Regions from separate parts of the Homo sapiens genome. Here region 1 is linked to region 2. Evidence: fine-mapped expression QTL. A gene starts in region 2. The other region holds a variant in brackets. All regions are shown on one strand. Distances are between the middles of the regions.

Region 1 (2,924 bases), 66 kb before region 2:
GCTGCTCAGGAGGCAGCTCCGCCGTGGTCTCCCTTGAGACATCTTCCTCAGGTAGCCAGCAGGGCACCTTTTATTTTCGGGATTTTCCCCTGGGTTTGGGGCTTTTATTTCCCATAGAGACTTCAGCGAGACTTGTTTTTACAGAGGGACCCGTTGATTCCGGGACTTGAGGGCTCGAGATCGCACGGGTTTAATCTTGGGGATTCCGTTTGTGTGGGGGCGCAGGGCGGGGACGTCTTGGGGAAGGGGACACGCTGGACCCTGGGGCGAGCGGACGGGTCCTGGGAGCGCCCGGGGCTGGGGACGCCGCGCACCGGGCCAGGAGCAGAGAGGCGCCCGTGCCTGCCCCAGGGTGTGCCAGGAGCTAAGCTTTCAGCTTCAGACGCCAGTGTCGCTGAAACCATAATTCAGGTATGTTAAAACTCAACAGCATTATTTTAAATACTTTATACCAAAACAAGAATGTTGTGATCTTACTTCCCTAGCTTTAAAGGAAGCAAACTCAGCAATGCTTTCAAGATCCCTACTTTGTTTTATCTGGGAGAAGTGCCATGTCTGACATTTCCAGTGACTCAGTGACACTGAGATAATTTTATTTAACTTTGGTTTACTGAAAGCCCTTCCTCAAGACCCCACCTTGACTTGTGTTGCTGAAAAGAGAAATGAGCAGTGTTGCCTACAAAGAGTAGAGGAGCAGGTCAGAACTTTTTATTTTCTAGGGTAAGAATTTTATAGCCTGAGTGGAGTTTGCCATAATTTGTTACACTGGCCCCTCTCCTTTGTAAGACCCTCAGGGTCATCTTACATTTCCTGCCTTTACTTAATTAAAATTTTGATATTTGCCTCATCATGGATGTTTAGGCATTAATTTCCAATTTTAATATTGTATTAAAATAGTATTTGAGTTGATAATTTAAGTATATATTTTAAATATATAAAGGATATATATTTTTATATTGATCTATTTTATATGTGTGTTTCTGTACATTTAAATACTTACGTATACATATTTATATATTTCAGCATATACTTTATATAAAATTATAACATATGTATATATTTATATATTTAAATACCCATAATATATAAAATGTAAGTATATATTCTACATATACTTACATATATATATAGATATAGAGTTATAAACTAAAACTAAAAATAAAATACTAAGCCACCCATTGGCTGAACATGCCCCCTTTTGGCCAATGGAACCCCTAAAAACCTTAACTGAATTCTCAACCATGATGGGAAGCAGGATGGACACGCCTCATTATATCCCCCTCCGTTTTGGAGTATGGACACAAACTGGCCAGCATTGATGTTATAAGAGAGATAATAAGACAAAACAGACTTTGTGGCAATAAGATACCAAATTATAAGCAAGACCTAAGGCCATGCAAGGCGAGAGTTATGTACTGCAAACCATAAAATCTCCTTAAATGGATTTTTAAAAATTAACCCAGTAAAATGTGGCTCACTTTCTAACCTAACTCTCATATAATACCATATGGCAGATTGCAGACCCATTTATCTTAATTTAAGCATTCTTTTCTAATGACTTCAAGTCTTTAGACAAAGCTTAACTGTTTCAACCAATTGCCAGCTAAAGAATCCCTGAAACCCACCTGTGACTTTTAAATCCCCACT[T/C]TGAGATGTCTTGCCTTTTCTGGCCAAACCACTGTATACCTTCCATGTATTGATTTATGATTTTACCTGCAATTCGTATCTCCCTGAAATGTCTAAAACCAAATTATAACCCAACCACCTTGGGTGCACTTTTTCAGGACCTCTTAAAACTGTTTCTCCAGGATATGGTCACTCATATTGGCTCAGAATAAACTTCTTTAAAATATTTTCCAGTCTTACAGACAATTTCCTCTCCTAGAGTTTCCATTTAGGAGGCGCCAATGTGCAAGACCCTGAGAGTGTCAGGGGAGCTGCAATCAAAGCTTTTCTTGGATGGACTTGGTTGAATATGGACTATACAGATTATAAATACATGGTTGTATGTATATATATATTTTTTCTATATAGTTCACAAATGCAAACTATATAGATTATACTAAAGGTTACTATCTGTATTAGTCTGTTCTCATGCTGCTACTAAAGACATACCCAAGACTGAGTAATTTATAAAGGAAAGAGGTTTAATTGACTCACAGTTCCACATGGCTGGGGAGGCCTCACAATCATGGCGGAAGGTGAATGAGGAGCAAAGTCATGTCTTACATGGTGGCAGGCAAGAGAGAGCTTGTGCAGGGAGGAGAACCCCCATTTATAAAACCATTGGATCTTGTGAGACTTATTCGCTACCACGAGAACAATATGGGAGAAACTGCCCCCATGATTCAATTATCTCCACCTGGCCCCACTATTGACATGTGGGAATTATTACAATTCAAGGTGAGATTTGGGTGGAGACACAGCCAAACCACATCACTATAATTTATCATGTTCAGATTCTCAGCCAGTAATTTCCAAACTTTATTTCATTTAATCTTTACAGTTTCTAATATGACAACTACTAAAATATTCTGAATTTTTCAGAAGAGGAAATGAAAATCTGATGTTTAACTTGCTAAGAGTCACAGATTTTGTCAGAAAGTGGAGCTTTCTACTGCCTCCAACTCCCCTCTTGATTTGCTCTCAGTACTTCCTCTTGGCAGCACTGAGAATGCTAGTGCTTAATTAATCATAATCGTGTCTTTAATGTCTGGCTTTTGCTCCCTGGAGGGCAATCATCATCCTGTCTTATTATCCTTGAACCCACATTGCCAAGCACATTGTTTGTCCCGTATATGCAGTGAACACATTTTTAGTGACAGAATGAAGACAACTGGATGAGTTAACCGTTGGTATGCCAGTTTTATGCCCTGTGATCTGTAGATTGTGATCTGTGGCTCCTGTAAAGAAAGGTGGAAGAA
Region 2 (2,924 bases):
GAAGTAGCTCTTCACAGCATTAGGGAGTTGTCATGGCCTGAGAGAGCCCTTCCACCCCTAACTCATTCAACAAGCAGGGCTCCAGGACTTCCCAATGCTGATAAAAATTCAGTGAATAATTTCTCCAGGCCAGTTTCATTCCAACCAACCTCTTGTGTTGAATAAGGTGACAATCTGCTGGAGCACCTTGTGGAGGACAGTGGTAGTCTAAGCCTTCTGAATTTTGCTGCCATCCCTTGGAAACAATAGAAAACATTCAAAACAGATGAACTGCCCATCAACAGGGCACTGGTTAAATAACTTATGATGTAACAACTCAGAAGGCAACAACAGAATTGTTTAAAAATATAAATAAGCCCTCTACACTAATTCAGGAAGATCTTGAAGTGAAAAAAAAAGATGCAGAACAGTGTACATGGTATGCTATCTTTTACATAAAAACGAGGCGAGTGTAAGAAAAACATGACTACATTCTTACTTTGCATATGCATAAAGAACTAGAAGGATTTAAAAGACAGAAACTTCAAAATTTGGAAAATGGAAGAAATTGTGTCAAAGTATACATTTATTTGTATGTCAAAATTTAAATTTACCACTAATTAAAGAAATGCAAGTTAATAAAATACTCACAAAGGGAAAAGTCAGAAGAAGGGAAAGACACAAACATTGTTGGTGATAATATTTTGGAAATATTGTCTTGGATCAGTATTTTACTAAATATTATCCATAACAGGGCTAAAATTTTGCTACCAGATTGTATAAGTTTACTACCGAGTCTATAAAACAATGGAGGATAAGAAGGTACACATTCAGGAACAAACCAATGGGCAAAGGAAACTATAGTATGTATAGTTATTGGAAAATTATGTAGCCATTTTTAAAATTGTGGAAAACAAAGGCATTTCAAGCCAAAAATTTAGAATATATCATTTACATAATAAAGTAACAATCTAGTAAAGACAAATATTTTGCGTTTGAAATTGTAACAAATTTGAAAATATGAACCAAAATTGTAACTGAAGTATCTACTACATAATGTGGGATAACAATTATTGTTTTGTAGAGGAAAAAAAAAATTAAGCATCCAGGTTTCCTCTCAATTTATACAAATGCCGCATTTCACTGTTATTCAAAAAAACAGAAGCTAGGAAGCGTAAAGCTTTGAAAAATTATGCATTTGGGGAACGTAAGAGCTCAGATATGCGAAAAACTTATATCAAACGTGCAGCATAACACACTTGCTTGCACACATTCTGTCCTATTTGGTCCCACATACAAGGCAGCTCTAAGAGGCCGGGCTGGCGCCCACCCCACACAGCTCCGCTTCCCCAACCCTCGCCCTCCCGCCTCCCGGGTACTTCCTCCCCCTTCCCCACCCCCACCCTCCCGCTGACTGACGAGGTCTGGAGGCCGCGCAGCCGCAGTAGCCGCTAAGGCCGCTCCCACCCCGTGGTATCCTGGGACTAGGCTTTTCCGGAAGGAGCGGCTCGGTGTTGGGGCTAGGCCGGTATTCTAGGCCCAAGCCCAGGCCCAGGCCTGTGTTCCCGGCCCTTGCTCAAAGACAGGCCGGTGGCCGCTGCGACACTCTAGGTACAGCGGAGGGCGCAGCGGGCCGTTCGCTGAGGTGTCCGGACCCGCCGCCGAGCGGGCCGTGGAGCCACAGTACGTGGCGGCGCCTCTTCCTTGCCCGAAGCGGAACTGCTGAAGGAGCGGCAGCGCAGGCCGGACGAGGTGAACCAGGTCATTTAACCGCCTTCAGGTGATGAATCATCTGTCTAATAATCAGATTTGAGGTCCACAGCCCTTTGTGGTCCTGCTACAGGGTGATTTTCAGTGGATGACTGACTGGCGTGGCCCGAGGGGTGCCGCAGTGACTGCCTTCCCTTGATAAGGAAACGAGCTTTCTGTTCTTTCTGGACACCTCGTTACCTGTAAAACATTCCGGTTATAACTTCTTTATCCGGCTTGCATCTCTGTGCAAGAGGAAAGCTTTCACATGAAAGTGTCCCTTGGTAACGGCGAAATGGGCGTCTCTGCCCATTTGCAGCCTTGTAAGGCAGGAACCACACGCTTTTTTACCAGCAATACTCACAGTTCGGTGGTATTGCAAGGCTTTGATCAGCTTAGAATAGAAGGATTGCTTTGTGATGTGACCCTGGTACCAGGTGATGGAGATGAAATCTTCCCTGTTCACAGAGCTATGATGGCGTCTGCTAGTGATTATTTCAAAGCCATGTTCACAGGTGGAATGAAAGAACAAGATTTGATGTGCATTAAGCTTCATGGGGTGAACAAGGTTGGTCTGAAGAAAATCATTGATTTTATTTATACTGCAAAACTTTCTCTTAATATGGACAATCTTCAGGACACACTTGAAGCTGCTAGCTTTTTACAAATATTACCCGTTTTGGATTTCTGTAAAGTATTTCTTATATCAGGAGTCTCTTTGGATAACTGTGTTGAGGTTGGACGAATTGCTAACACCTACAATCTTATAGAAGTGGATAAATATGTTAATAATTTCATCCTGAAGAACTTTCCTGCTTTATTGAGTACTGGGGAGTTTCTAAAACTCCCTTTTGAACGACTTGCATTTGTGCTTTCCAGTAATAGTCTTAAGCACTGTACCGAACTTGAACTCTTTAAGGCAGCCTGTCGCTGGCTAAGGTTGGAAGACCCTCGGATGGATTATGCTGCAAAGTTAATGAAGAATATTCGATTTCCACTGATGACACCACAGGATCTCATCAATTACGTGCAGACAGTAGATTTCATGAGAACAGACAATACCTGCGTGAATTTGCTTTTGGAAGCTAGCAATTACCAAATGATGCCATATATGCAGCCAGTGATGCAGTCAGATAGAACTGCCATTCGATCTGACTCCACTCACTTGGTTACATTAGGAGGAGTTTTGAGGCAGC

What was found. PIP is the estimated chance that this variant, and not a neighbour inherited with it, causes the effect.
Region 1: its variant is the best candidate, but not a certain one, in a credible set for the expression of KLHL9 in whole blood (TOPMed, PIP 0.79).

What each region holds. Positions count from the first base shown.
Region 1 is chr9:21,399,918-21,402,841 of GRCh38, reverse strand. No RefSeq gene overlaps it. Among named protein-coding and RNA genes, the nearest start is that of IFNA8, 7.7 kb to the left of the region's middle. The variant T/C (reference allele first, on the strand shown) is at 1,648.
Region 2 is chr9:21,333,932-21,336,855 of GRCh38, reverse strand. It overlaps KLHL9 (kelch like family member 9), which reads left to right and starts at 1,452. Exons shown (of 1, transcript NM_018847.4): 1 at 1,452-2,924. The coding sequence starts at 1,997. It overlaps LOC107987053 (a long non-coding RNA gene), which reads right to left. Exons shown (of 3, transcript XR_001746634.2): 3 at 1-235. RefSeq lists a silencer at 1,263-1,432 and enhancers at 1,473-1,782, 1,973-2,022.